Linked DNA regions of Homo sapiens. The protein of the gene in region 1 interacts with the protein of each later gene in a biochemical or structural test. Each region holds a gene or a part of one and is shown in the gene's direction. Other genes may lie near its edges. The genes, in order: OR10G3, DLG5, PARD3B, PALS2, MPP7, TJP3 and GRID2IP.

Region 1 (4,973 bases):
TAAGTAAAGTATATAATTAAGTAAATAAATAAAACCATGCCGGGGTTGGGCTAGGTGGCTCACTCCTGTAATCCCAGCACTTTGGGAGGCTGAGGCGGGCAGATTGCCTGGGGTCAGGAGTTCTAGTCCAGCCTGGCCAACATGGTAAAACCCTGTTTCTACTAAAAGTACAAAAATTAGCTGGGCATGGTGGTAGGTGCCTGTGATCCCAACTACTCGTGAGGCTGAGGCAGGAGAATCACTTGAACTCCGGAGGCAAAGGTTGTAGTGAGCCGTGATCACACCACTGCACTCCAGCCTGGGCAACAGAGTGAGACTCCGTTTCAAAAAAAAAAAAAACCCATGCCCATTTGTATGTGTATTTTATGGCTGCTTTCCCATACAATGGCAGAGTTGAGTAGCTGCAACAGAGACTGTATGGTCCTCAAGGCCAAAAACATTTATTATCTGCCTCTTTAGAGAGAAAGTGTGCTTTCCTCTGCTTTAGACACTTTAACACAATTGTGGCTTGGAAGCTACAGAGACCTCCACAAAAGTTTGGTGGAAAAAATAATAAAACTAAACCATATTCAAGATGTTCTTTTACAACACAGACCATCTCTGGACATTTGAAGACAGTTGGGAAAAATGTTGCGACAACACCAAATTTAAGTCTAGAAGAAAATAAGTTAGACCAAATTCAAAGTATTCAAGGAAACAAGACCAAGAAATACTAAGAAAAATAACAGGCCGGGGGCAGTGGCTTGCACCTGTAGTCCCAGCATTTTGGGAGGTAGAGGGAGGAGGATCACTTGAGCCCAGGAGTTCAAGACCAGCCTGAGCAATCTAGTGAGACCTCGTCTCTACGAAAAATTTAAAAATTAGTCAGGTGTGGTGGTATGTGCCTGTAGTCCCAGCCACTTGGGAGGCTGAGGTGGAAGAATCGCTTGAGCCTAGGAGGATGAGGCTGCAGTGAGCCGTGATCACGTCGCTGCACTCCAGCCTGAGCGACAGAGCAAGACCCTGTCTCAAAAAATAAATAAATAAATAAAATTGTAAAATTAAAAAAGAAAAATCACTGTTCAGGGAGCTTGACTTAAAACATTACAGATGATAGTTGGATCAGATGACCTCTAATGTCCCTCCAACCCTGAAATTCTGTTTCTTCTAGTCTGTGAAGGTCTATGTTAGCACCTTAGTAATTCAAAGTGTGAATTTCTTAAAATGTGAATGCACCAATAAGAACACATCTCTTGCCAAGTAACAACCATGTTAGCTTTTTCTTCTCTTTTTTTCCAAATTTGCTTTGGAACAGAAAGAAAACCACAGATCTGAAGATTTCAACGAGACCTGTTAAGCCCCACAGACTTTGTCGCACCTGCTGTTACAAAATTGGAAAAAGCTAGAAACCCAGAGAGTCTCCTAGGAAACAAACTATGGATATTGGTCTTGCCTATCACAGGAGTGCTATTACAATATTCCCCAAGCTAAAGGTCTCACACATAAAAACTGACTCTGAGGGAAATAGAAGAAGTAGTAGAACACAGGAGAGACCAACCTTAACAGTTATCTTCAGTAAGAGCCACAGCTCCTCCCCCAGTTCATAAGGAAGCTGGAAGCAGATATCTCTACAAATAAGCAGGCAAATAATAAATTAAGTTTCCATAGTTTGACTCTTTACTTTGATCCAGCCAAAAGTAATTAGTTGGGTCTTCTGCCACGAGCTCTTCACAATAATTGCTGCTGACCTATGAGATATTCAAGATTCCTTAGGAATAGATTTGTATCCTTTCTCTCCGTCTGCAAGAAGAGTTTTTGATGGATGCTGACACCTTCAGGTGAGTTCCTCTTCTCAAAATAGCACCTGCCACTGTTCTAATCCCATTTTTCAGAGATAAATGTTAAGTCCAAACATTGTGTAAGGGGTTTCTCTACTCTGAGTCACTTCATCTCTCAATATTCTTACTTGTTTAGTTACTCAGTATAGTTCTTTTTCTGCTGTCACAAAAATTTTCTTTGCTGTTCTGCTCATATGACTATGTAACTACCATTTAGCCTTTTTATAAATAGTGGCTAATAGGCCAAGCATGTTGGCTCACACCTGTAATCCCAGCACTTTGGGATGCCAAGACGGGCGGATCACCTGAGGTCAGGAGTTCAAGACCAGCCTAACCAACATGGTAAAACCCCATCTCTACTAAAAATACAAAAATTAGCTGGGGGTGGTGGTACACGCCTGTAATCCCAGCTACTTGGGAGGCTGAGGCAGGAGAATCACTTGAACCTGAGAGATGGAGGTTGCAGTGAGCCAAGATGGCACAACTGCATTCCAGCCTGGGCAACAGAGAGAGACTCCATCTCAAAAATAAAAATTAAAATTAAAAAAATTAAAAAATTAAAAAATAGTGGCTAATATTGGATAACACTATTTCCCCCAGGCCTTTAATTGGCTAAATTTTTCTCCAAAGCTATTCTCCATTAAAAGTCCATTCACTGGTTTTAATACCAACCAGACTAGGAAGAGCATCTTCGAGTTCTGTGGTGGTGCCACCCTTGCTCTGTTCTTTTTGTCCTCACCAGGTCCCTTCCACCTATAAGACAAGTTCTCTGCCCAAAATTTGAAAAATGGACATGAGTAAAGCTATAACCTGATTTCTTTGTTGGCAAATATTTTAAACAGACAATTCTAACTCATTGCTAATAAGGGTTTTACATTTTAATAGAAATTGTCTCATGTCTCTCAATTTAATAACTCAAACTTTTCTCATATTATATATGTATATATTTGTTCCATTGTTATTCATCTTTAAATTATTTTCCATTTTATATGTCTTATTGTGAAATTTATTTTAAAAAGAAATTAATTATATTAGTTTTCCAAATATTTGAAATGCTTTTTATAAATAAAAAAGTGTGCTTTGAGTCGATTTTCAGAAAATAATAAAATTTTTAAAGTTTTCTTCATGGCCATTTGAAAGATGGGTTAGGGATACAGTTTGGGACCAGAATTAAGTAAAATTCATTTGCTGAAATGAGGTTAAGCCTGTGCCCTTCGCCTCATTAGAAAAGATGTCTAATCTCCTTGGTTGCTCAAAATTATACACTTTTATTTAGTTTGTGGTCCCCTAATATTTCTCATATATTTTTCAAACATTCATGTACTAGATGGTCTTTATTTTATTTTGTTTATTTATTATTTATTTATTTATTTTGAGATGGAGTTTCATTCTTGTTGCCCAGGCTGGAGTGCAATCGCACGATCTCAAGTCACTGCAACCTCTGCCTTCCGGGTTCAAGCTACTCTCCTGCCTCAGCCTCCTGTGTAGCTGGGATTACAGGCTCATACCACTATGCCCAGCTAATTTTTGTATTTTTAGTAGAGACGAGGTTTCACCATGTTGGCCACACTGGTCTCAAACTCCTGACATCAGGTGATCCACCAGCCTTGGCCTCCCAAAGTGTTAGGATTACGGGCATGAGCCACCGCGACCGGCCTCTAGATGGTCTTTAATATTTGATATCAGATGAGAATTCAAAAACACATTTAATCAATATATTCAAAGACTAAGTATCTGTGAAATAAAAACACTACTAAGCCTTCAGGCTTTTTTCTTTTTTTTTGAGTTGGAGTTTTGCTCTTGTTGCCCAGACTGGAACGCAATGGTGTGCTCTCAGTTCACTGTAATCTCAGCCTCCCAGGTTCCAGCGATTCTCCTGCCTCAGCCTCCTGAGTAGCTGGGATTACAGGCATGTGCCACCACACCACACTAATTTTGTATTTTTAGTAGAGACGGGGTTTCTTCACGTTGGTCAGGCTGATCACCCGACCTCAGGTGATCTGCCCGCCTCGGCCTCCCAAAATGCTGGGATTACAGGCGTGAGCCACCGCGCCCGGCCTCCCTCGGGCTTTTTTAAGAAACACTCAGTGTGATAGATTGTCAATGAAAGAAGTCGGGCAACTTCATGAATTCATTGTAACTAAACTTCACTCTAGTTTGATTTTAGAACTTGCTCTTAACTCCACTATGTCTCAATTTTGAAATAGGGTAGTAACACCAGTTTAGAATCCTTGACAGAATGAACCATAAAACTCTTAAAATTGTGATTCAGTTCACATGATTTACTACATTATTTTGATTTGGTTCCTTGTGGGAAGGAATTTTCAGTAAAATGTGGAAAGAGTGCTGGACTAGGAACAACACAATCTGGTTGGAGCCTTTACTCCAGCATTATACAGCTGTGAGACTCCTCTGCCATTTAACCTCTAAGGATTAAAAAACACTACACAGGTGCAAAATGCCACCATTATTCTATGACTTTTTATCACTCTGGTCCCCGGAGGTTTCATCGGTGCCATGTTTCCTTCTCCTTGTGCCATGTCTCTTTCTCTCCCTCCATGTCTCTTTCTGTCCCTCCGTATCTCTCTCTCTCTCTCTCTTTTATTTTTGAAAGCATTTAAATAAAGTGTCTCAGAACCACATGTGGGATATTAATGAGCCAGAGAGTATGCAGAAGGGTGGTTACCTGGCAAATACTAAGCTTTATGCTTGGAGGTTTATGATAATGGCAGTGACACAGGGAGAAAGGTCTTAACAGATCAGAGGTAAAGGGAAGTTTTTCTATTAATATTTATAACTTACTGAGGAGCAAAAAGTTAGAGAAACAAAAAGAAGAAAACAAAAAGAGGTAACTGGGATGAAATCACACCCAATAAAGATACTCGGTATTACAAATAAAACTGCACTCTTTCCTCTCATTCCTCCCTTTAAGATGGTTCTGAAATCTAAGGACAAAGTTAGAAAATTCTATTCTCTGGTTGAATAAAACAAGAATCATCATGCTATGGGTGGACTGTCATTCCCTATCAATGGAAAATTTTGCAAAAGAAATAACACTTTTTAGGGAGTAAATCTTAGAATATTCTCCAAAGCAAACAAGAAAACAGTATGAAAAATAAATCAGGGAAAAATAATTAGGGAACTCTAAAAAGTTAG
Region 2 (4,492 bases), on another chromosome or scaffold:
GATGACATGTACTACCATTGTAATATCATACAGAGTAGTTTCACTGCTCTAAAAATTCCCTATGCTCCCCATATTTATGCAAGCCCCTGGCAACAACTGATCCTTTTACTGCCTCCATGCTTTTGTGTTTTCCAGAATGCCATAGAGTTGGAATCACAGAGTGTATAGAATGGCTTCTTCATTTGCTAATATACACTTAAGGTTCCTGCACGTTGTTTCAGTTCTTTTTAGTGCTAATTTATATTCCGTTGTCTGGGTGTACCACAAGAGATATATTTTTAACAATGAATTTTTACTTTTATGTTTAATATTTAAAAAAAATATTCAAGACATTATGCAGGTAATTTCCTTCTTTTTGAGACAGAGTCTCATTGTGTCGCCCAGACTGGAGTGCAGTGGCGTGATCTTAGTTCACTGCAACCTCCACCTCCGGGTTCAAGCGATTCTCCTGCCTCAGCCTCCCAAGTAGCTGGGACTACAGGTGCATGCCACCGTGCCTGGCTTATTTTTGTAATTTTTGTATAGATGGGGTTTCACCATATCGGTCAGGCTGGTCTCGAACTCCTGACCTCGTGACCCGCCTGCCTCAGCCTACCAAAGCGCTGGGATTACAGGCATGAGCCACTGTGCCCGGCCCAGATAATTTCAGAAAGTGTTCAAAGTTAAGAAAACTTTGACTCTTCTTTGAGTTCAGAGTGACCAGAGCCATGAGAAAACTTATCCATTAGGGAGAAGCATATGTGTTCATGTGTGTGTGCATCTCTGTCTATCTGTCTCTTTTTTAAGGGGCAGGTGGCCCATTCCTGACCATTGCTTTACCTCTGGGGATGGTTTTCAGTGGCAGCTCCAAGTCCTGCCATCTCACTCTCTCTCTCACTCCTCTGCAATCCCTGCCTAGGTATTCCCTCAGAGCTCCTCGTGGAGTGGCCAGAACATTTTTGAAAATATCAAAGACTCTGATAAGATGCTGAGTTTTCGAGCCCATGGCCCGGAGGTCCAGGCTCATAACAAACGGAACTTGATACAGCACAATAACTCCACGCAGACAGACATCTTCTACACGGACAGGCTGGAAGACAGGAAGGAGCCAGGCCCCCCAGGAGGCAGCAGCTCCTTTCTGCATAAGCCATTCCCTGGGGGACCCTTGCAGGTCTGCCCCCAGGCCTGTCCCAGTGCCTCTGAGCGTAGCCTGAGCTCCTTCCGCTCAGATGCCTCTGGGGACCGTGGCTTTGGGCTGGTGGACGTGCGTGGCCGGCGGCCACTGCTGCCCTTTGAGACCGAGGTGGGCCCCTGTGGGGTTGGGGAGGCCTCCCTGGACAAGGCAGACTCTGAAGGCTCCAACAGCGGCGGGACCTGGCCCAAGGCCATGCTCAGCTCCACGGCAGTGCCTGAGAAGCTCTCTGTTTATAAAAAGCCAAAGCAAAGAAAGTCCATCTTTGACCCTAACACTTTCAAACGCCCCCAGACACCCCCCAAAATAGACTACCTGCTTCCAGGTCCTGGGCCTGCTCACTCTCCCCAGCCCTCCAAGAGGGCGGGGCCTCTGACACCCCCAAAACCTCCCAGAAGGAGCGACTCCATTAAGTTCCAGCACAGGCTGGAGACTAGCTCCGAGTCAGAAGCCACTCTGGTGGGCAGCTCCCCATCCACTAGTCCCCCGAGCGCCCTGCCCCCTGACGTGGACCCCGGGGAGCCCATGCACGCATCACCCCCTCGCAAGGCCAGGGTCCGCATTGCTTCCAGCTACTACCCTGAAGGAGATGGGGACTCCTCCCACCTGCCGGCCAAGAAATCCTGTGATGAGGACCTCACCTCCCAGAAGGTGGATGAGCTGGGGCAGAAGCGTCGCCGGCCAAAATCTGCTCCCAGTTTTCGGCCGAAGCTTGCTCCAGTAGTGATTCCTGCTCAGTTCCTGGAGGTATAGCTGAGCCCCAGGGTGTGGGGAGGGGAGGCCTAGAGAGGGGCAGTTGGCCGAAGGAGGGCTGCTAAGTGGCCCTGCACCAGTGTCCCAGGCCCCTGTTTAGCCTGGTGCCTTTGCCTTTGCTGTTGGACTCAAGTGGGAAGTGGCCCAGCTAGGAGGTAGGTAAGTGGCGTGGAAGTGCATGGTAGTGGGAGTGTGACACAAGAGGGGAACACTTTATTGGGCATAGCATTTGGTTTGCTTTTTTAATAAGAAGCTTTTGAACTTACACAATAAAACCTAGGGCATAGACTTGCCTTGAAGGGCTAGGGAGATGAGGTGGCACGTGTGAGGCTGAGTGGGCAGCGGGACGGCCTGATTGCGTGTGCTGTCATAGTTTCCAGAAGGGTGAGATTGCTGGGGACTGTGGAAAGCATCTCAGGCACCAGTCCACACTGCTCACTGGGGACAAAGAGCTTCGCACAGCCCTCCACATCGGGCAGAGTTGTACGTGCCTGATGCACTTGTGCATTCTCACCTTTTACGTGATCTCTGTGAAAGATTCATTCTCTGTGGTTTTCTTCTGAAGTAAAGCTGCTTCCTTGAAGATGTGTAAGGCAACATGAATGGGCAGCGTTCCCATTCATGTCCCTTCCTGTGCCCCAGTGGGAGGAGCTGGTTCCTGGGGGGCAGAAACTGGCTTGCAGAGCTGCTCAAGCGTTCCACTGTTTGGTTTTTTTTTTTTTTTTCCCCTAAGATGGAGTCTCACTCTGTCACCCAGGCTGGAGTACAGTGGTGCAGTCTTGGCTCACTGCAACTTCTGCCTCCCGAGTTCAAGCGATTCTCCTGCCTCAGCCTCCCAAGTAGCTGGGATTACAGGCACCCACTACCATGCCCAGCTAATTTTTGTATTTTTGGTAGAGACGGGATTTCGCCATGTTGGCCAGGGTGGTCTTGAACTCCTGACCTTAGGTGATCTGCCCGCCTCGGCCTCCCAGAGTGCTGGGATTATAGGTGTGAGCCACTGCGCCTGGCCACACTCCACTCTTTCTAGCAGACACTCTTGCCCTTGCATCTGCAGGAACAGAAGTGTGTCCCGGCCAGTGGAGAACTCTCCCCGGAGCTCCAGGAGTGGGCACCTTACTCGCCTGGGCATTCCAGCCGGCACAGCAACCCCCCGCTATACCCTAGCAGGCCGTCTGTGGGTGAGTCAGCCAGCCAGGGGCTGGGGCTGAGGGTCGGTGTAAACTCGGGATGCCTAGTCTCCAGGGAGAGGGGAGGCAGCATTTCAGAGAGCTGCCATGTGTTTTCAGCCCTGAGGTCCAGAGAACTGGGAAATGCTGTCCTGTCTGGGATGGTTTGTCTTATAGCCATGACATGTCTTAGCTTGTCAACATGCTTTCTCCCCATAGCAACCTGGGAAATAGGAAGCATGAAAGAGACTTCCCCCCTTTTTACAAATGGAGACAGGCCAGGAGCCACAGCCACATTGTGAATTGGTGGTTAAAACTCATCTCCCAAGTCCTTTTCCCAAAAGACTGCGGCTGCGTCCTGGGATACAGGGGAAAGGCTTGTGTAAGTCCTGGGCTGGCTGGGTCCTTTGGGGCGTCTTTTCTCACCAAGCCCATTTCTAGGCACTGTTCCCCGGAGTTTGACCCCCAGCACCACTGTGAGCTCCATCCTGCGGAACCCCATCTACACTGTGCGCAGTCACAGGGTCGGCCCCTGCAGCTCTCCACCTGCGGCCCGAGATGCTGGCCCCCAGGGTTTGCATCCCAGGTATGTGAAGGCACCCTACGCTTCTCTGTACTCCAGCTGCCCAAGCCTGCCTGGACATGGAACCATGAGTGCATAAAGAGGCTCATTGGTGGAGAAGCTTCCTTGCCTGCCTGGGAGGGGACTGGCTAGAGCAGCACAGGGAAAGGGAGCCTTAGGGCTGCTTTCTGAATTCATCAGCACAAGGTTTCAAAAGGTACTGGAAGGACACGATAGTGATAGCAGCTGATGTTTGAGTGCTTATGTCCCAGCCACTGTGCTCAGACCTTTATGAATATCATTTCACCGAATCAACAGCAACCTCATGGGCTAAGTCCTATTACTGTTTCTGTCTTGAAGATGAGGAAACTGGTACTTCATAAGAGGGTGGGCTGGCTCCAAGCCACTCTTATTCATTCATTTGACAGATATTTTTTGAGCACCTACTACATGCCTTGGTCTATCCTAATTATAAGAGGATACATTGCTGAACTAAACAAATTAGCTTCTAGCTCATGTCGTGTGGTTTTTCAAATGTGGGAGGCAGACAAAAAAAAAAAATGAACGAAGTGATATCAGATGGTGCCAAGAGGCTATGAAGGCAGTCAAACAGGGTGACAGGCTGGGCTGTAACTTGGAAGAGGGTGGCAAGTTAGAGTGGGTGGTCAGGAAGGGCCCTGTGGCAGAGGGGATGCTGCTGTGACCAGAAGGATGAAAGAGGCCAGCTGCACAAGACCTGGGCTGGAGCCTCCAGGGAGAAGGGCCATCGGTGCCAAGGCCAGGGCACCCAGGCACAGTCGTGGGAGCTTGTCAAAGGGGCAGCGAGTCAAGAAGAGG
Region 3 (4,492 bases), on another chromosome or scaffold:
CATTACACCACACTGCCCCATTAGAAGAGGGGTGACCTTTTGCCCTTTCTTTTCCAGAATCTCCAAGCAAAGATTTTGGTCCAACTCTGGGTTTGAAAAAGTCCAGCTCCTTGGAGAGTCTGCAGACTGCAGTGGCCGAGGTCAGGAAGAATGACCTTCCCTTTCACAGGCCCCGGCCGCACATGGTTCGAGGCCGAGGCTGCAATGAGAGCTTTAGAGCAGCCATTGACAAATCCTACGATGGACCTGAAGAAATAGAAGCTGGTAGGATGATATGCTTCCTTAAATGGCTTCTTCATCTCATTATTATCTGCAAATCATGGGCAAGAATGTGTGCTCAACTACAGAAAAAAATGATTTAAGGATCACAATTATATTTTTGATATTAAAAGTAATTCATTTTCCTGATATGTTTTGCCCTTTGGCTTAATGAACATGGAATTGGAGAACACAATATGCAATTTATTTTACAGTGCAAGGCTAAATAAATGTTCTCCTTCACTTTTCTACAAGGACCAACTGTCATTTACCCTTAGGGTAGGAGCACTAAGTATGCATTTCTTGACATTCTCATTCGAGTCATTAGAGGCAGCATCAATCCAAGGACTCCGACTGCATTAATTGGGTAGAAGCAGTTGGGATATTTTGTACTCAAAACTCTCTTCTCACCCTGTTTGTTTCCCAGCATGCAGGCTTTCTGAGCTGATCAAGGTTAACAAGGCAGCTTTCAGAGAGATTAGTGCTTGAACACATATCAAGCCTTTCATACTACCAGCTAAGCAACCGGTTGTCCCCACTCCCAGCATCAAGTCTTGCTCGAAGTAACCAGATTTAGGCAGTCAGATCTTCAAAGGGCGCACGTAACCACATAGAAGGGTAGAACTACAGAGTGCTGTTATTCATTCTTTTGCATTTTACATGTTAGCGTTTCTCTGTATACTAACTGAGTGTGCCCCTGACCATGGGTATTGATTATTTTTTCTCTGTACAGACGGTCTGTCTGATAAGAGCTCTCACTCTGGCCAAGGAGCTCTGAATTGTGAGTCTGCCCCTCAGGGGAATTCGGAGCTAGAGGACATGGAAAATAAAGCCAGGAAAGTCAAAAAAACGAAAGAGAAGGAGAAGAAAAAGGAAAAGGGCAAATTGAAAGTCAAGGAGAAAAAGCGCAAAGAGGAGAATGAAGATCCAGAAAGGAAAATAAAGAAGAAGGGCTTCGGCGCCATGCTGAGGTATGGGCCTGCTTTGAAGGCAAAGTTGGTTCTCATTTTGTCTCTCCTGGTAAAATCACTCCTTTGTCTGTACTCAGAAAAAAGCGCACGCTTTTCCTCGTCTTCAGCCAAATGCATACGGCTCTCAATTCTGTGCTCGTTCTCTTTCTGCAGAGGCAGAGGAGCTTTTTGGGGAAAGTTACAGTGATGACAGGACACTGTCTTAAGTTTGTTGTCAAAGAAAGGTCAACACTATGCCAGGCACGGTGGCTCATGCCTGTAATCTCAGTACTTTGGGAGGCTGGGAGGATTGCTTGAGCCCAAGAGTTCAAGACCAGCCTGGGCAAGGTAGGGAGACCCTATTCTTTTTTTCTTTTTTCTTTTCTTTTTTTTTTTTTTTTTTTTTTTGAGACAGTCGCGCTTTGTCGCCCAGGCTGGAGTGCAGTGGCGTGATCTCGGCTCACTGCAACCTCCGCCTCCTGGGTTCAAGCGATTCTTCTGCCTTAGCCTCCCTAGTAGCTGAGACTATAGGCATGCACCACAACGCCCAGCTCATTTTTGTATTTTTAGTAGAGTGGAGTTTCGCCATGTGGGCCAGGAGTCTTGAACTCCTGACCTCAAGTGATCTGCCTTGTCTGCCTTGGCCTCCCAAAGTGCTGGGGTTTCAGGCAGGAGACCCTATTTCTAAGAAAAAAAAAATTAGCCAGGCACAGTGGTGCATACCTGTAATCCCAAGTACTCAGGAGGCTGAGGCCAGAGCATGGCTTGATCCCAGTAGTTCAAGGCTGCAGTGAGCTATGATTACACCATAAAAGAAAGGCCAATACTTAGTAGAGGCATGGACAATGCCTGCAGTCCTTTGTACCAAAGTGTTATGAAAATAAATACTTCCTCTGACACCACAGGGAAAGTGGGAAGTGGGGAAGCCCTATGTGTTACCTCTGGAATACCTCTTTTGAAGCAGGGGAGTCAGGGTAGATGAACCTCATCCCTCTGTGACTCTAGGTGTGCAGTGGCCGGGCCTCTGGGCACATCACTTGTCACCTCCAGAGGCACTGTGGTACAGGGGAGATGTCACTGGGTCTGGGCTCTGATGCCCAAGTCTGGATCCATGACTCCCCACACATGAGCAATGGGGCTTCACACACATTGCTTAGCTTCCCTGAGCCTTACTTTCCTTACTTTTAAAATGAGGCCAGCATACTTGCTCTACTGACCCAGCACAGTTGTGAGATATGATTTCATATGCTATACATTCATTGACTAGACGGGGCTCAACATGGCACAGTCAGAAAACAGCTTTGTTTCTTCTCTCCCCTTCAAGTATAAACTGTTGAGGCTGCCTCTTCCACACCCTGACATCTCAGCTTTCTGGCTGATAGCTTTCTGGTCACTTTTGGGTAAAAAAAAAAGCAACTTGTTTGTCGGGGGCTAAAATATGCAATCCAATATAAATGAAAGCTTTCTTCCTTTCTGCCTGTTGGACCTGAACCACAAGGAGCATCCTATGGTATGGTGGGAGGCAGGATTCCACCTTCTCCTATTTCTCAGTCTTTGGAACCAGGAGACAAAGACAAGATTCAATAGGATAGGATTTTACTTAACTGGCATTATCTGGTATAATCTGGCCATCAAGGAATCTTTGTGGCTACTTTTGTGGATTTTTTAGAGTGCTCCTTACTATACCAGTCACTAATGTAGGTGATTTTCCCACTGACCTATTTCCCTAAGCCTCTGACCTCAGACATATACCCCTGAGTCTCCTTACCCCGGCTGGTAGACTTCTTGGACAGTGCCAGTTTGAGACAGCTCTAGCTTAACTTACAGCCACAGCATCTACCTGGCTTATTAGAGTTCCTGATCTCCCACCCTCCAAATGATGCAAGTACAGCTTGTTCCCACTGTACCGCTCCTCCTCACCCCACCATAGAGATGTTCCAACCAGCCTTGCATCTTCAGACTTCTCCAGCACATCCCACACCAGCTCTGGGCCTCCTCACTCCAGAAGCACACATCAGACTCTCCCAAGAATGCTGTCATGCATGGGGAAGGGAGGAGGCAGTCAATTTTTGCAAGTCACAAAATAAACAGGTAGGAAGTGGGGTGACAATCTCCTATTATACAATTACCTCCAAATTCCCTAAGGGGTTTACTTGTAGCCCCCTCACTTATTTTGTTGGGTGTTACAGGCAGAAGTACCCCTTTCTATTACTGTCTTTACTCCTATAATTTCTTCTCAAATCAATTGATCACTATACTTCTGTGGGCTGAAGGTGAATGATGGGAGATGATGGTTTAGGGGCCAGTTTGGCCACCTCTTATGAAACCCTTAGGAGATACCTCATTTAAGAATGCTGCGTGTATTTATTACCAATTGTTCTCATTTTGTGATCATCAGCTGAAATTTCTACATAGAAAAGAAAGTTCCATCATTCCATATATAAGTGACATTTAGGGAATACAAATAATCCTCTTAGCAGTGAGCCTTCCCGTTACATTTCCAGTGCTCATGAAATGCTAAGCAAGGTTCCTCATGCTCAAAATCTTGGGAGCGATGTTGCCCCTGGATGTGTTATGACAAGACTTGCTGCGGTCCTGCTATCACCTGGGGTGAGGTTACCCCAGCAGGCCTGATGTCATAATAGCTATCTGAATATTAAAAAACAAAATTTTGGCCAGGCATAGTGGCCCAAGCCTGTAATCCCAGCACTTTGGGAGGCCAAGACGGGCGGATCACCTGAGGTCAGGAGTTCGAGACCAGCTTGACTAACATGGAGAAACCCCTTCTCTACTAAAAATACAAAATTAGCCGGGCGTGGTGGTGCATGCCTATAATCCCAGCTACTCGGGAGGCTGAGACAGGAGAATCGCTTGAACCTGGGAGGCAGAGGTTGTGGTGAGCCAAGATTGCACCATTGTACTCCCGCCTGGGCAACAAGAGCAAAACTCCATCTCAAAAAAAAAAAAAAATTCAGCTAGGCATAGTGGCTCAGGCATGTAATCCCAGCACTTTGAGAGGCTGAGATGGGCAAATCACTTGAGCCCAGGAGTTATAAGACAAGCCTGAACAACATGGCAAAAACCCATTTCCATAAAAAAAGGAAAAAAACACAAATTAGCTGGGCATGGTGGCATGTGCCTATAGTCCCAGCTACTCAGGAGGCTGAAGTGGGAGGATTGACTTAGCCTGGGAGGTAGAGGATACAGTGAGCCATGATCCCTTCACTGGACTCCAGCCTGGGCAACAGAGTAAGACCCTATCTCAAAAAATTAAAATTAAAAAG
Region 4 (4,492 bases), on another chromosome or scaffold:
GAAAAGTTAAACTGAGCTAGAAGTAGAAATATGGCAAGGGGTAGCAAAAAATTTCAGAAGATGACTATTATGTTTCTTCCTACCCTTTGAAGACATGAACTACCCTTTGAAGAAATACTGACAGTATCAAAATATAAAAAGAAGTTGTTATTAAAAATTGAAGCCATACTAGGACTCTCTAAGTAGTGAAGTTTACTATTCCTTGGTAAAATTATTACTTCTGGATCCTGACTATAAGAACAGTGAGTGCAAAAAAGGAAAAGCCAGGAATAAGTCCATCAGAATGCACAAATACCTTTTCCTGCTCTCTCGAGTTTCCATTTAGCCTGTAAGATACATCCTATCCACTAGTGTAATAAACTATACTAGTACACAGTTTAATGGGAGTGAAATATTGAGACAGGAGAGAACATGGGAAAAGTAAGAATGATTCATTTTACCTAGTTTTAGAATTATTTTCTTACATATGCTCATGAATATTTAAGCATTTCTCCCTAATAATTAATGAGAAATCTGTTTCTTATTTTTCATAGGGTGTGACATTTAGGGTTGAAAATAATGATCTGGTAATTGCCCGAATCCTCCATGGGGGAATGATAGATCGACAAGGTCTACTTCATGTGGGAGATATAATTAAAGAAGTCAATGGCCATGAGGTTGGAAATAATCCAAAGGAATTACAAGAATTACTGAAAAATATTAGTGGAAGTGTCACCCTAAAAATCTTACCAAGTTATAGAGATACCATTACTCCTCAACAGGTTAGTAATAAAATTTTTGGTAGTATTAAAAATACTTTCATGTTTTTAATCACAGTGTTGGAAATAACTATCAGTTGCTACTATTTTGCTAAAGAAAAGAGAAAAAATTGATTTGAGTGTTCTGAAATGGCTTATTTTGTCATGGGTGAATTTTTGAATTTTTAAACAATGCTATTTTACTATTGTAAAGGAAATAGTAGATTTCTTCATTAACACCAGGAACCCTGGCATAATAGTAACCTACAGCTAGGTATCAGAAGAACCATAAAGTCTTTGAATTACTAATCTAGTAAACATTTCTGACAGCTGTTATGTTCAGGCATTGTATTAGGCCCTGGGAGAGGATAAAAATGCAGTCCAGATCACCTCCAGCTTAGTGTTTGTGTCATGGGTGAAATGACTGATGAGGCCAGAAAAGAGGATGGGTATAAAGAAAATCTTGGACCCCTGGTTTGCACACATTTGATCTGTATTTTAAAACTAATTTTAGGTAAACTAGGTAATTGAACGGGAAAATGTTTTAGTTATAGAGATTGTCTAGACTCGGTATGTTAAGTGAATTCAAAAAGAAGAGAGATGAGATTATGTAACCAGGTGGCAGATTTTTGAAGGTGTGAGGTGATTTGTGAACAACAGCTCTAATGAATGGTTAAGATGACCACTTAGGTTCAAATACCAGTGCTGCCAGTTATCAGCTTACCTTCTCTGTGCTTCATTTTTCTCATCTATATAGTTAGGGATAAAATTTGTTTTCTCAAAAGATTGTTATGAGGATTAAACGAGTTAATTCATGTAATGCTCTCACAGCAACACCTGGCACATAATGAGTGCTCAAGAAGTGGCTGCACTTGCTGTGGTGATGACGCAGTAGTGGTGAAATGGAACCGTAAAGAAAGAAAAAGAAATTGCGGAGGAAGAATTGAAAATTATGATAGGAGTGTTGGAACCAAAGAGAGGGTTTTCAAGCCTAAGTAATGTAGAAGTAGATGCCTCTAATGCTTAGGTTTATTCCAGAAATTTATTGTTTGATGTATGAATGAAATTATAAGTTTTCTTACATAAGATACTGCCAGTGTATCTTATTTCATATTGTTAAAATGAGAGTTTAAAAGTCTAGTTCTTACATTTCCATACAGTTATTTGAAATAACATTTCATTGAATGTCTATTTTAAACTGTTCTTTCAAAGGTAAGGATAGATTATTTAGTCATTAATATTAGCATGTAAATTGAACTTATGAAAATAGATAGGCTTGTAATTAACTTTGGTTGAAATGAAGGTAGTTTTGTGGTCCTCAAGGAAAAGAATTGTGAAAAATAAATGATATTAGTACTTAGACATTTCATATCACTAGTACCTCTCAGGCTACCTTTATTCCTCAGTTGGCAACTTTCAATTTGTGACAGCCTGAGGCCTTATCTTGGACCTGCGTACGCTGGAAGAGTAAAATCTAGGATTTACGTATTTTATTTATTATTATGTGTTAGTTGTAGTAGGAAGATCTTATTTTCCTTCTGTGGTCTAAACTCCAGAATTCTTCTAGCTCACCATGGCTATAAGAGACTTTTACAGGCAAAATAAAATTTTATAATATTAATAACTAGGGCTTTGGCCCAAATTCCTACATAGATTTTGCATCTGGTGAACTAACTGAATACCATGAAATGCAAGGACATTTAGCCTTGTTTAAACATAAGTTTTCCACATTCCATACCCTCTCAAACTCTGCTTTTCACTTAGCATTTAGAGCTGGGGAAATGAATTCAAGTAGGAGAGGAGGAGTCTTATAAGTCCGAGGTAGCCTGAGGCGTGTCCTCCCATAAAGAAGTAAAGAAACTATAACATGAAGGCTTCCAAAAGAACATCCAAATTGAGACTTTTTTTTTTTTAAATGAAAAGGGGAACATTACTCATATGCTGGAATAATAGGCATAAACCAGGGCATCTGCAAACCATGGGCATCCTACTGAGATGCTATAGGGAAGCAAGGGCATTTTGCGTCTTCAACTCTTTCACTAAAATCTCCACCATGTAGTGCTGTGGAGCTAGTCTCAGCTCTGGATTGCTGCAAGAGCAAATGAAAGCCAAGAACTCTTCCCTACCACGGTAATGTTTTTCAAAAGCATAGTCAGTAGATGATCTTTATCAGAATCGTTTCAGGTGCTTGGTAAAAGTCCAGAATCTGCTATGGGACATAAGTATCTATGTTTTAAATTTTGAGGGCCAGAGTGAGTTAGAAGTAGCCAATTCTGAAGTTCTTCAACTTTCTTATAGCTTAGATTTCCGGGGGCTATTCGTAATTCCATTTGTTTATTAAGGCCAACTGATAGGAATTCTCTCTTATTCTTTGGAACCAACATGACCTGGACAACTAGAAACAATATAAGAAAATATATTACAGGACTGTTTCATTCAAGGATATACATTAAAAATTCTCAACAAAATATTAGCAAATCAGATTTGATTGTGTATATAACAAAGATGATACAACATATCCAAGTTAGATTTATTATCCCAGGTATGCTAGGAGAGTTTCATATTAGAAAATCCATATGTATGTAACTAAGCACATTACCAGATGAAAAGAGAATAACCTCAATGGAGAATTTGATAAAATTCAATGATTTTTAAAAAATGATTAGTAAATTAGGAACAGAAGGGAAAAGCCTTAATTTTATTACAAAAAAAAAAAATAGAACAAACATTATTCTGAATTAACTAATGTTAGAAGCTTTCCCTTTAAAGTCAGAAACTGGCCTTGCAGCTGGTCTGCCTGAGACCTCTAGTGCCAACCCCAATACCCCACGAAGTTTAATTTCCACTCACGAAATTCCACTTTCGTTTTCATTATAAAATGAAAAAGCCCTCACAAACCATGAAAAACTTGCCAGATTTCAAGCACAATTGTGCACTGGTAAAAAGGAACTGCCCTCAGATGATACAGCAAACATTATCTGTTAAAACAGATGATAAAAAAAATCTTCAGTTTTCCTGAAAGAAAGTAGAAATAGGCAATATCTCTGATACTAAAGAGGTATGTCTGCAAACCAAGGAATGGTGATCTTCATTAACAATCCCAGTGTTCAGACATCTCTAGCAGCGAACACTTTGACCATTACCAGACATGCTGAGACAAAGCAGCTAACAGAAATGCCACCCAGTGTCTTAAACCAGCTTGGTGTCAACAAGCTTAAGGAAACTGGCAGAAGCTGGATGGAAAAGTACCACTTACTATTGGGGAAGTGGTGATCTTGTTCAGAATTTTGATGAAGCTTCCAACAGTGAGGCAAACTGAATTGATTCAGCTTCTAAAAAATAATACAATTTCAAGAATTTTAACTGCTTTTAAAATTTTTGTTTTATATATGATAAAATGTAAGTCTATAAATTCCAAGACCCTTGGACACTGCTTTTTAATTATTGATTATATACAGTTATTTATTGGCAATTAATTAGCCAGAAAATAGTTTAAAACAAAGATAAAGCCTTTGCCTAGTTAAAAAAAAAAAAAGAAACTAGAGAAGGATGCTCACTAGCACCACTTATATTTAATATTTTCTTGAAGGATCCATAAGTACAGTATGACAAAAATAAATTATACAAGCAAAATGTTTGGAAAGGAGGCAATAAAACTTATTTACAAATATGATCATGTTTTTGCATAGAAACCCCTCAAAACTACAACTTATTAGAAATAATAGAGTTTACCAAGGTACCTGAAAATAAGATGA
Region 5 (3,278 bases), on another chromosome or scaffold:
ACGAAAAGCCTTTCCTTTGGGATTAATATAAGTAAGAATGGTAGCCTTGTGGCAAGAAATGATTACAAAGGATATTTTTATTTGTAATTCCTCAGAAGACAATTTATGAAGTCACCCAAAATGTTATTTTAGCTGGTTTTGGATTTTTCCAATAAATTAGAAGAAGGATTTCTATTCTAAAACATGTAAAACCTGTTTTACATATTACTGATACAATTAAAGATTATTTTTCATCTATGTGCAATAGATCACCCCTCTTTAAATTGCTCTAAGATTTATTTTAGAAAACTTTTCATGTGATGTTATTTCTTTGTCATCAAAATGCTTGTTAACACTGTCCAGACACCATCCTAACCTTGCCATTGTTAAAGAAGTTTAGGAAAGACTCTTATATTGTAAATATTTAGATGGGTTCTCTCACTTTTCTTTGATACTACTGATTTTCAGCAAGTGAATTATATAATTCAAAATGCTAGAAATGTCTATCCGTTCTATAAGAGAGCATATCCTGCCGTTCTTGCATGCAGTGAAGCCCTGCCCGTCGAAAATCATTGCATCTGTGACTTTCAAAGTGGAAAAAAAAATGTTATTTTTTTGTTGATTTGTAAAGAGAGTTTAAATGTCATGTGAAAAAAAATAGAATGTAGTAAAATTCTATATATTTATGAAATATTTTAAAGGCATATTTTTTTAAATATCAAACGGGGCTATTCATAAAATAAACTGATTGTATGTCAAGATGTCCTAATTTAAAAGAGTAGTTTTATAAATCATGGTCAACATTCCATGTAAATATTTGAGCTTTACAAAGATAGATCCAAGTGTGCGATCTGTGCACTGCACATTTGATAGCATTATTCACTGGTTTTCCTTCATACTTGTCAAGTTCATATTAGAAGCAGAGACAAAAACCACTCCAATGGCCTTGACACATAGTCACACCAAAATAGATAATCAGACTAAGTATTATATAACAACGTGATCCAGACAGTGAGTTCTAAGTGTATTAATTAAATAGCAAAAAATTTTGTTTTTAAAAAATGAAAGAGGGAGGGTTGCCAACCTGAAGTCTTAAGTAGATTGTTTGGGTAGCATATTTCCTTCTTTGAACATTGTCTGAAATTTTCTATAAATCAAGACTTCTTGTACAAAGAATGATGGGACATATGTAATAATTCAGGCAATCACCTGAGTAATTTAGGCAGTCCAAATTCTTTACCCTGAAATACCCACATTTTAAAAAAATTGCAGATAATTGCTTCAGTTATTTACTTTGGGGACAGAGATATAGTGTAAAGTGGGAGAAACTGAGTCCTTTTTTGGTGGTGGTAATAATAAGATGTTATAAAAATATAACATTTTAAAAAAGAAAGGTCCAGACCTTAAGCGCAGAGCTAGAACAATATTTTTTAAATAATGGGGGGAAAAGGGGGCACTTTGGTAATTTTAGAAATCAGGTAGTATACTTTTTTTTTTTTTTTTGAGACAGGGTCTTGCCATGTTGCTCAGGCTGGTCTTGAACTCCTGGGCTCAAGCAATCCTCCTGCCTTGGCCTCCCAAAGTGCTGGGATTACAGGCATGATCCACCGTGCCCAGCCGGTAGACGTGGTCTTAAAAACAGTGTTTACATGGCCATCTTGATGCTTAGAAAGATAATTGATTAAAATTTAATAAGGCAGGGCCAACTCCGAGAGTTCATTGACAACGGCAGCAAAAAGGCCCTGAATTCTGTACTTTCTTCCCCCAGCCTCCTTCTCCAGCAAGGAGAATAGCACTCCTCCCTCCAGAAGCCAGCTCCCTAAGTTGGAGCCACTATGTAAGAGAAGAGGAACGTTCACTTTTTAAAATTCATATATTTAAAAATCAAGACCAAAAAGTAAATTCTGTACTCCTATTATTGACTGTAGTCAATCAAACATAAAAAGGTGAAAGTAAAATTTAATTTTTTACCCTTATTTTACTGACCAATATGGAAGTTCTTGGTATCTTTAAGGCTGACCTTCCTGGTATTGTGTAATGATTGAATGTATCTAAACTGTAATAATTTGAAACTGACAAACATAACCTTCTCAGACTTACAAAACTATGTTCTTTCTAAAGATACAGATTTTTATTATTTTATTTTGACTAGGAAGGATTTATAAATAAATGTAATGAAAAATCTTTGATCTTAATAAAGTACCTTCAAACAGTGTGTGTACTTACTTGAAAATTGTTTTTGCACTTGGATATTCTATTTTATTATACTACTATTGTGATCTATTCCATTATACTATTTCCCATGGTAGAACAAATTATATTTTCTACTGTGATATGAAGTGATGTAATTGAACTTGCCATGTCTAAAATTAAATTTCATATTTTTTTCAATCAAACACTGCTTTCATCGAGGCTGTTGGAGAGATGGAATTCACTAGTGTTGTTCTTACCCATACATTCCAGCAATTTAAAAATGTGGAGAACCTTAGTGGGAAGGAAGAATTAGGACCATCAATGATGGGAACACACCTCCCCCACTCCCCACCTCCTCTCCCTCCCTCCCACTAGGAATCAGTGTCACACATATCCTCTTCCTGAGCTCCAGTTAGGCGAAACTCAACTTTTTCAACTGTGCATATAGGAACAGATTGTCATCTGCTATGCAAACTAGCTAGCATTGGCCTTGCTTCAGTCCTCGAGCCAGTTAGCCCCAGCTGTGCATCCATAGAAAGGTTGCTCTGAAGAGCATTTAAAAGCATTTAAGAGCATGGGATCTGGAGTCAGAATTCTTCAGTTCACATTCTGATTTTGCCTGTTTCCAGCTCTGCAGCCTTGGGAAAAACACTGAACCTCTCTGTTTTTCATTTTCTCATCAGAAAAAAATAGGGACAAGAACAGTGATTACCTCATGGGATTGGTGTGGGCATGAAATGAAAGAATCCATGTATACTTAGAACAAAACCTGGGACAGAAGTGTTCAGTAATTGTGAGCTCCTGTTGTATAATGGTCATTATCATCACATCACACAATTTAAAAATAGCTGTGTAAGTATTCTCAATCACCCTACATAAACAGTTTTCCTATTAGTAAGCCCACTGGAAGTTTACAATAAATCATTTTTTAGAAGCTTTATTTTTTTTTTTGTTTATTTTTTTGAGATGGAGTCTCACTCTGTTGCCCAGGTTGGAGTGCAGTGGCGCGATCTTGGCTCACTGCAAGCTCCGCCTCCCGGGCTCACGCCATTCTCCTGCCTCAGCCTCCCAAGTAGCTGGGACTACAGGCGCCCGCCACCACGCCC
Region 6 (4,492 bases), on another chromosome or scaffold:
CCTCCCGAGTAGCTGGGACTACAGGCGCCCGCCACCACACCCGGCTAATTTTTTGTATTTTTAGTACAGACGGGGTTTCACCGTGGTAGCCAAGATGGTCTCTCCTGACCTTGTGATCCGCCCACCTCAGCCTCCCAAAGTGCTGGGATTACAGGCGTGAGCCACCATGCCCGGCCTTATTTTATTTTTTTTTGAGATGGAGTCTCGCTCTGTTGCCCAGGCTGGAGTGCAGTGGAACGATCTCCGCTCGCTGCAACCTCCACCTCCTGGGTTCAAAGCGATTCTCCTGTCTCAGCCTCCCAAGTAGCTGGGATTACAGGCGCCCACCACCACGCCCAGCTAATTTTTGTATTTTTAGTAGAGACAGGGTTTCACCGTATTGGTCAGGCTGGTCTCGAACTCCTGATCTCAGGTGATTCGCTCGCCTCGGCCTCCCAAAGTGCTGGGATTACAGGCGTGAGCCACCGCGTCCGGCCAAAATGAAGGGAGAGCTTTAAATGCTGGCCTGAAGACATTTGGCTTTATGATATTAAAGGATATTTTTTCCCAAAATAGTAAAATCATTACTCTCATACAAATACAAAATGAGGCCGGATGCGGTGGCTCACGCCTGTAATCCCAGCACTTTGGGAGGCCGAGACGGGTGGATCACGAGGTCAGGAGTTCAAGACCAGCCTGGCTAACATGGTGAAACCCTGTCTCTACTAAAAGTACAAAAAAAAAAAAAAAGGTGCTTTATGTGTCTGCTTAATTCATTAATTAATATGGGAACCGGTAAGACTTTATAGCCTATACAGAGGGGAATTAATTTGTTTCCTTTCTTTCTTTTTTTTAAAAATTGAAAATAGAAATGGGGTTTTGCTGTGTTGGCCGGCCTGGTCTCGAGCTTCTGGGCTCAAGTGATCTGCCAGCCTCAGCCACTCAAAGTGCTGGGATTTCAAGCGAGAGCCACCGACCCGGCCTCAGCATTCTTGATTGCCTGTGTGTGTGTGTTCTTTCAGTTCTCCTCTGGACCAGACACGGTGGCTCACGCCTGTAATCCCAGCATTTTGGGAGGCCAAGGCAGGTGGGTCACTTGAGCCCAGGAGTTTGAGACCAGCCTGGCAAACGTGGTGAAACTCTGTCTCTACTAAAAATACAAAAATTAGCCAGGTGTGTTGGCGTGTGCCTATAATTCCAGCTACTTGGGAGGCTGAGGCAGGAGAATTGCTTGAACCTGGGAGGCAGAGGTTGCAGTGAGCCGGGATCGCACCACTGCACTCCAGCCCCAGAGACAGAGCAAGACTCCATCTCAAAAATGTCATTCCGTGCCCAGAATGACAGCACCTTAGCGTAGATGGTTTCCATGGGGCAGGGGGCCCCCTCTAGCCCTGGGACACTGTAATTCACCTTTGGCTTTCCCACTGGGGGCCCGAGTGGAGTTAGAAGCATGGAGAGGCAGCCCAGGGGATCCTTAGTGGCAGATGCTTAAACCTTTGAGCCTTCCCTGAAATACTGCTCAGGGTCAAAACCGGGATCCCCGTTTTACAGATGAGGAAGCTGAGGCAGGGGCTGGAATTCACATGGGCTCTGCTTTTCTCTCTCTGCTGTGGAACTTCCTTCTAGAGCTCAGCCGTCCTCCCTTTTGGGGGAAATGGCATCTTTGGCATGGCTTGGTGGCTCCCGCCTGGAATCCCAACATTTTGGGAGGCCGAGGTGGGAGGATCGCATGAGCCCAGCAGTTCAAGACAGGTCCGGGCAACATAGCGAGATACCGTCTCTACAAAATATACAAAAATCTGCTGGGCAGGGTGGCGTGCACCTGTGGCCCCAGCTACACAGGAGGCTGGGGTGGGAGGATCGCTTGAGCCCAGGAAAGTGGAGGCTGCAGTGAGCTATGATTGCACCACTGCACTCCAGCCTAGGTGACAGAGCAAGACTCTGTCTCAAAAAAAAAAAAAAGAAAAGAAAAGAAAGTCCCCTGTTGAACACCCTGAGCTGCATTCCATACTCCAAGCTTCTAGCAGGTTCCACACTCCTCCTACTTCAAAGTGCCCCCCATGAGTCCTACTTCAAAGTGCCCCCCATGAGGTCCTCCAGCCTCCCCAGGACGCCAAACCCTGAGACGTTCTTCAGCCCTCCAGTGCCTTAGGGCTGAGCCGGCCACACCTAGAATCTGCCCTTCCTCAAAGGTCGTTTGGATCTTGGCAACCCACAGACCGGGGCGTCTCCTCCCACCTGGCTGCCCTCCATCTCTGCTCTCTGTCTCTGCTCCTGCCCCGTCCTCTCCACACGGCTTCCTTAAAACCTCCCAGGGTCCCCCAAAACCCATGACGCCAGTCTAGTCATGAGGGAAACAGCTGGTCCCCAATGTCCCCACATTGAGAGTTATTCTGCAAAAGACCTGCCCAGCACAGACTAACAGGTCACAGAACAGGAAAGACAGAATCGGTCACAGCCCAGCGGTGTCTAAGGAGACGTGACAGCCAACTACCAGGTGGGATCCTGGATGGGGCCCTGGGGCGGCAAAGGGCCTGCGGAGAGACGTGAATAAAGTGTGGAGTTCAGTGAACAAGGTTGTACTGATGTTGACTTCTTGGTTTTGACATATGTACCCGTGTAATAATGTTAATGTTAGTGGAAATCAGTTGGGTGTATAAAGGAATTCTCTGTGTATTTACTTTTCTGTAACTTTAAAATTATTATTATTATTTATTTATTTCTTTTTTTGAGACAGAGTCTCGCTCTGTCGCCCAGGCTCTGGAGTGCAGTGGCACGATCTCGGCTCACTGCAACCTCCGCCTCCCAGGTTGAAGTGATTCTCCTGCCTCAGCCTCCCGAGTAGCTGGGACTACAGGCGCCCGCCAACATGCCCAGCTAATTTTTTTTTTTTTTTTGTATTTTTAGTAGAGACGGAGTTTCACCGTGTTGGCCAGGATGGTCTCCATCTCTTGACCTCGTGATCCACCTGTCTCGGCCTCCCAAAGTGCTGGGATTACAGGGGTGAACCACCACGCCCGGCCTATTATTATTACTATTATTTAATTTCTTTGTTGTTGTTTTGAGACAGAGTCTCTCTCTGTCACCCAGGCTGGCTGGAGTGCAGTGGCGCAATCTTGGCTCACTGCAACCTCTGCCTCCCGGTTCAAGAGATTCTCCTGCCTCAGCCTCCTGAGTAGCAGGGATTACAGCAGCCCGCCGCCACACCCGGCTAATTTTTGTATTTTTAGTAGAGACAGGGTTTCATCATCTTGGCCTGGTTGGTCTCAAACTCCTGACCTCATGATCCTGCCTCAGCCCCCTGAGTAGCTGGGATTACAGGCACGTGCCACTACGCTTGGCTAATTTTAGTATTTTTAGTAGAGACAGGGTTTCACCATCTTGGCCAGGCTGGTCTCAAACTCCCGACCTCGTGATCCACCCGCGTTGGCCTCCCAAAGTGCTGGGATTACAGATGTGAGCCACCGCGCCCAGCCCGTTCTTTTAGTATTTATTGAGCACGTACTGCATACACAGTGATGGGGCTGCAGAAGAACTGATTGACAGACACAGTGGAAGCCCACAGTCTTTAGGGGAGACAGACAATAATTGAATAATCGCATATGTAACTAAAAAGTACAATTAGGCCAGGCGCAGTGGCACACACCTGTAATCCCAGCACTTTGGGAGGCCAAGGCGGGCGGATCACGAGGTCAGAGTTCGAGACCATCCTGGCCCTGATCCACTGGGGGACCTCAGCCCAGCCCCTGCTATCTCTGGGCCTCAGTTTTCCCACAAGCACTCAGAAGGGGTTGAGCTGGCTCATCCCAGGGAGGCCTCCAGAACTCCACCTTCCCTGGGTCCTCCTGTCCCTCACCCTGCTCAGATCACACTGGCCCTGAACGCTGGTTCCCAATCACACGTCATATACTTGGCTTGCAACAGTTTTGTTGACTGAGTGACTGAATGCACAGAAGAATTAAGGCACAAATGAAGTAGATTGCTGAAAAGCAGATTTTCTCTTTTTTTCCTTTTCTTTTTGCTATTATTATTTTTACTTCGTGAGGCAACAGTAGAAAACCAGGTTTTTTGTTTGTTTGTTTGGTTGGTTGGTTTTTTTTTTTTTTGAGATGGAGTCTCGCTCTGTCGCCCAGGCTGGAGCGCAGTGGCGCAATCTCGGCTCACTGCAACCTCCGCCTCCCGGGTTCACGCCATTCTCCTGCCTCAGCCTCCCGAGTAGCTGGGACTACAGGCGCCCGCCACCACACCCAGCTATATTTTTGTATTTTTAGTAGAGATGGGGTTTCACCGTGTTATCCAGGATGGTCTCGATCTCCTGACCTCGTGATCCGCCCGCCTCGGCCTCCCAAAGTGCTGGGATTACAGGTGTGAGCCACCGCGCCCGGCCAAAAGCAGGTTTTTAATTCATTAAGGTGATCCGAAGGTCAGGGGTGGTGGGAATAAGGGGCTTAAGGCTATGCCCATCTCCAAAGCCTTGGATTTGAACCCAGGTTTGGAGGATGGTACTAGGGAG
Region 7 (4,492 bases), on another chromosome or scaffold:
ACACCTGGGTGGGGGAGACAGACGGTTACACAGACTCATGGTGCATCTGTGCTAGGATTCAGACGTGTACAGAACGTGGCCTCTGACTGGAAACCCTCGAAGCTTCCCGCTACTTCTCCTCCCCTTTTGGAATCATCTAGAAAGCGGGTGGATATACAGTTCCAGAGTTCAAGAGCGAGCTCTCGGCTGAAGATCGAGGTCTGAGAGTCACTGTCTGGGGTTCTTCGCCAGAGCTGGGTCGTGGAGAGCCTCAAGTGCAATAGTGAACTGCAGTGGCAAAGGGCAGTGGTACAGAAACAGCACGTGTAGACGGCTCCAGACTACAGAAGGGAGGAGAATGAGCAGCTTTCAGGATCAAAGGAGGATTGTCTTTTATTTATTTATTTATGGAGACAGGGTCTTGATCTGTCACCCAGGCTGGAGCTCAGTGGTGTGATCATGGCTTACTGCAGCCTTGATTTCCCGGGCACAAGAGATCCTCCTACCTCGGCCTCCCAAGTATCTGGTAGCTGGGAATACAAGCGTGCACCACCATATCTGGCTAACTTTTTACTTTTTCTTTTCTTTCTTTTTTTTCTTTTGAGATGGAGTCTGTCTCTGTCACCCAGGCTGGAGTGCAGTGGCGCGATCTCGGCTTACTGCAAGCTCCGCCTCCCGGGTTCACACCATTCTCCTGCCTCAGCCTCCCGAGTAGCTGGGACTACAGGCGCCCGCCATCACGCCCACCTGGCTAATTTTTTTTCTATTTTTAGTAGAGACGGGGTTTCACCGTGTCAGTTGGGATGGTCTCGATCTCCTGACCTTGTGATCCGCCTGCCTCGGCCTCCCAAAGTGCTGGGATTACAGGCATGAGCCACCGCGCCCGGCTGTCTTTCATTTTTTAGAGACAGGGTCTGGTTATGTTGCCCAGGCTGGTCTCCAACTCCTGGCCTCAAGTGATCCTCCCGCCTTGTCCTCCCAAAGCTCTGGGATTATAGGCATGAGCTGCTGTGCCCAGCTTGTTATTTATTTATTTATAGCCTGAGAGAGACTTGAACATTTATATAAGCTGCAGGGAATGGAGAAGTAGATATACTGAAAACCATGCAGGCCGGGCACAGTGGCTCACACCTGTAAACCCAGCACATTGGGAGGCTGAGGCGGGTGGATCACCTGAGGTCAGGAGCTCGAGACTGCCTGGCCAACATGGAGAAACCCTGTCTCTACTAAAAACACAAAACATTAGCTGGTTGTGGTGGCGGGTGCCTGTAATCCCAGCTACTCAGGAGGGTGAGGCAGGAGCGTCGCTTGAACCCGGGAGGCAGAGGTTGCAATGAGCCGAGATCATGCCATTGCACTCCAGCCTGGGCAATAAGAGTGACACTCCATCTCAAAAAAAACAGAAAGAAAAAAGAAAAAGAAAACCATGCATTTACCAGTCATTGATCATGGGCCTATGATGTGCAGGACAGGGGAAACAGCCATGAACAACACAGGCAAGGAGCCTGACTTCACACACCTAACATTACTGCAGGGAAAGAGACAGTAAGCAAGTGGATTAATCAATACACAAGCTATTAAAGATCATGACAGGCCAGGCACGATGGCTCAGACGTGTAATTCCAACACTTTGGGAGGCCGAGGTGGGAGGATCACCTGAGGTCAGGAGTTTGAGACCAGCCTGGCCAACATGGTGAAACCCCATCTCTACAAAAATTACCAAAATGAGCCGGGCGTGGTGGCATTTGCCTATAATCCCAGCTACTTGGGAGGCTGAGTCAGGAGAACTGCTTGAACTCAGGAGGTGGAGGTTGCAGTGAGCCAAGATCCCACCACTGCACAGAGCGACAGAGTGAGCGACAGAGTGAGACTTTCTCTCAAATAATAATAATAATAATAAAATTAAATTAAATTAGCCAAGCACAGTGGCGTGCACCTGTGATCCTGGCTACTCGGAAGGCAGAGGTGGGAGGATCGCTTGAACACAGGAGTTCAAGGCCACAGGGAGCTATGATTGCACCACTGCACTCCAGCCTGGGCAACAGAGCAAGACCCTGACTCCAGAAAAAAAAAGATGATGATGAATAAAGTGGAGGCATAAATAGGGTGAGGTGAGAGTGACGCAACCCACTTTGACAGGGTGGCCAGGAAAGGCTGCCTGATGAGATGATCTTTGAGCTGAAAGCTGAATGACAAGTAGGTGGCAGGAAGAAAGGGGTGGAGACTGGGAATGGTGAGGTGTCTGTGGCCTGGTGATTTGGCCTTGACTACAAAGGGGGCTTTTTTTTTTTTTGAGACAGAGCCTCGCTCTGTCACCAGGCTGGAGTGCAGTGGCACGATCTTGGCTCACTGCAACCTCCGCCTCCCAGGCTCAAGCAATTCTCCTGCCTCAGCCTCCCGAGTAACTGGGATTACAGGCGTTTGCCATCAGATGCTCAGCTAATTTTTGTATTTGTAGTAGAGATGGGGTTTCACCATGTTGGCCAGGCTGGTCTCGAACTCCTAACTTCAGATGATCCACCCACCTTCGCCTCCCAAAGTGCTGGGATGACAGCCGTGAGCCACCGCACCCGGCCGGAAGTGGGCCTCTTCAACCTCTGAGAGCAGAGGATGGAAGGGAAGGATGCGGAGTCTGTTGAGAAGTTTGGAGGTGGATGAGGGTGAGAGAGGCGGGGCCTGACAGCCCCAGTTCAGGCTGAAGTTGCACCCACAAGTCCTCGAGAGAGGGAGACGTGAACGACTCATGGACTCACTCAGCCGCCCAGCCTTGCTTCAGGGTCAGCTCCAGCTGTCAGTGCCCAGAGACAACCAGACCCTCAGCCAACAAGGGAAGGGTCTCATGGAGTATGTGCTTTCAGTGGCTAAACTGTATGACATGTGGGCAATTCGATGGTTTTTAATATATTCACAGGATTGTAACACCCATCACTACCATCCATTTTCAAACAATTTCATCACTCTAACAAGAAATTCTGCACTCCTTAGCCATCACTCCCTATTTCATGGTTTTATTTTCTTATTTATTTATTGAAATGGGGTCTTGATCTGTTGCCCAGACTGTATAGTGCAGTGGCACAATCTTGGCTCACTGCAGCCTCAACTTCCTGAGCTCAAGTGATCCTCTCACTTCAGCCTCACAAGTAGCTGAGACTACAGGCATGCACCACCACATCTGGCTAATTTAAAAAAAATTTGTTTGTAGAAATGGGGTCATGCTATGTTGCCCAGGATGGTCTTGAATTCCTGGTCTCAAACAATCCTCCTGCCTCGATCTCCCTAAGCACTGGGATTACAGGTGTGAACCATTGCCCCCAGCCCTGCCAGGATCTTGCCTCCCACCTACTTTGGGATTTTCTTTTTTCTTTTTTTTTTTTTTTTTTTTGAGATGGAGTTTTTGCTCTTGTTGCCTAGGCTGGAGTACAATGGCAAGATCTCGACTCACTGCAACCTCCGACTCCTGGGTTCAAGCGATTCTCCTGCCTCAGCCTCCCGAGTAGCTGGGATGAATAAAGGCACCCACCACCACGTCTGGCTAATTTTTGTATTTTTAGTAGAGACGGGGTTTCACCATGTTGGCCAGGCTGGTCTCAAACACCTGACCTCAGATGATCCGCCCCCCTTGGCCTCCCAAAGTGCTGGGATTACAGGTGTGAGCCACCGCGCCTGGCTGAGATTTTCCTCTTTGTTTTTGGCCTAGATAGCCAAGAAACTACAAATATCTCCCACATGGATGTACTGCAATTATTTAGCCCCCACTGTCAGATATTTATATTGCTGCCAACGTCTTAGTGTTAGAAATAATACACAGGTGAACCACCTCACTCATACATCATCGTGCATGTGTCTTGTCAGGATGTGTGTAAGATAAATTCCTACATGTGAGATCATTGGGTAGAAGGATGGGCTTTGGACACACTTAACAACCTGCCTTCCAGAAACGTGACCATTTGCATGCTCATTTCCAACATGACCATTTGCATGCTCATTTCCAATGTGCCCATTTGCACACTCGTTTCCAACGTGTGCATTTGCACGCTCGTTTCCACCATGTCTATTTGCATGCTCCTTTCCAACGTGATCATTTGCACACGTTTCCAACGTGTCCATTTGCACGCTCATTTCCAATGGCCACACACTCCTGTGTGCAGATGTGCCTTGATTAGTATCAGCTGGTTTGTGGACAAAGACAAAAGTTTGGAGAGAGAACTGAGGGAGTCAAAATTCAGGGCCAAGCTGACGTGCCAGGACTTTTTTTGTGGAGTCAGAATGTTCTGTGTGGGATCTCTCAGCGCACAGTATGGAAGGGAGTGTAGTATTATAATAATAGTAACTAGCAATTACTGAATGTGTGGTGTGGTTTTAAGCTTTTATATTAATTCCTTTGATCTTTACGATATTTATTAGAACAGCTCTCTTTGGGTTTGAATCCTGACCCTTCACTTTCACCCCGTGACGCCGTCACCTCTACCAGCCTCAGTTTCCTTACATGGAAAATGAAGATGCTGGCCAAGAG

The links.
Region 2: the proteins of OR10G3 (region 1) and DLG5 interact in a test that uses a peptide from one of them, tested with the Homo sapiens proteins (one large-scale study listed by IntAct).
Region 3: the proteins of OR10G3 (region 1) and PARD3B interact in a test that uses a peptide from one of them, tested with the Homo sapiens proteins (one large-scale study listed by IntAct).
Region 4: the proteins of OR10G3 (region 1) and PALS2 interact in a test that uses a peptide from one of them, tested with the Homo sapiens proteins (one large-scale study listed by IntAct).
Region 5: the proteins of OR10G3 (region 1) and MPP7 interact in a test that uses a peptide from one of them, tested with the Homo sapiens proteins (one large-scale study listed by IntAct).
Region 6: the proteins of OR10G3 (region 1) and TJP3 interact in a test that uses a peptide from one of them, tested with the Homo sapiens proteins (one large-scale study listed by IntAct).
Region 7: the proteins of OR10G3 (region 1) and GRID2IP interact in a test that uses a peptide from one of them, tested with the Homo sapiens proteins (one large-scale study listed by IntAct).

What each region holds. Positions count from the first base shown.
Region 1 is NC_000014.9:21,576,630-21,581,602, reverse strand, and holds the start of OR10G3 (olfactory receptor 10G3), read left to right. Parts: upstream 1-1,526; 5' UTR 1,527-1,817; intron 1,818-4,973. UniProt on the Homo sapiens protein: Odorant receptor.
Region 2 is NC_000010.11:77,818,508-77,822,999, reverse strand, and holds part of DLG5 (disks large homolog 5), read left to right. Parts: intron 1-898; coding exon 899-1,918; intron 1,919-2,981; coding exon 2,982-3,105; intron 3,106-3,312; coding exon of another isoform or gene 3,313-3,395; exon of another isoform or gene 3,396-3,534; coding exon 3,535-3,679; intron 3,680-4,492. UniProt on the Homo sapiens protein: Acts as a regulator of the Hippo signaling pathway.
Region 3 is NC_000002.12:205,300,473-205,304,964, forward strand, and holds part of PARD3B (partitioning defective 3 homolog B), read left to right. Parts: intron 1-57; coding exon 58-264; intron 265-991; coding exon 992-1,229; intron 1,230-4,492. UniProt on the Homo sapiens protein: Putative adapter protein involved in asymmetrical cell division and cell polarization processes. May play a role in the formation of epithelial tight junctions.
Region 4 is NC_000007.14:24,649,952-24,654,443, forward strand, and holds part of PALS2 (protein PALS2), read left to right. Parts: intron 1-533; coding exon 534-761; intron 762-4,492.
Region 5 is NC_000010.11:28,050,090-28,053,367, reverse strand, and holds the end of MPP7 (MAGUK p55 subfamily member 7), read left to right. Parts: 3' UTR 1-2,375; downstream 2,376-3,278. UniProt on the Homo sapiens protein: Acts as an important adapter that promotes epithelial cell polarity and tight junction formation via its interaction with DLG1. Involved in the assembly of protein complexes at sites of cell-cell contact.
Region 6 is NC_000019.10:3,711,023-3,715,514, forward strand, and holds part of TJP3 (tight junction protein ZO-3), read left to right. Parts: intron 1-4,492. UniProt on the Homo sapiens protein: TJP1, TJP2, and TJP3 are closely related scaffolding proteins that link tight junction (TJ) transmembrane proteins such as claudins, junctional adhesion molecules, and occludin to the actin cytoskeleton.
Region 7 is NC_000007.14:6,541,176-6,545,667, reverse strand, and holds part of GRID2IP (delphilin), read left to right. Parts: intron 1-4,492.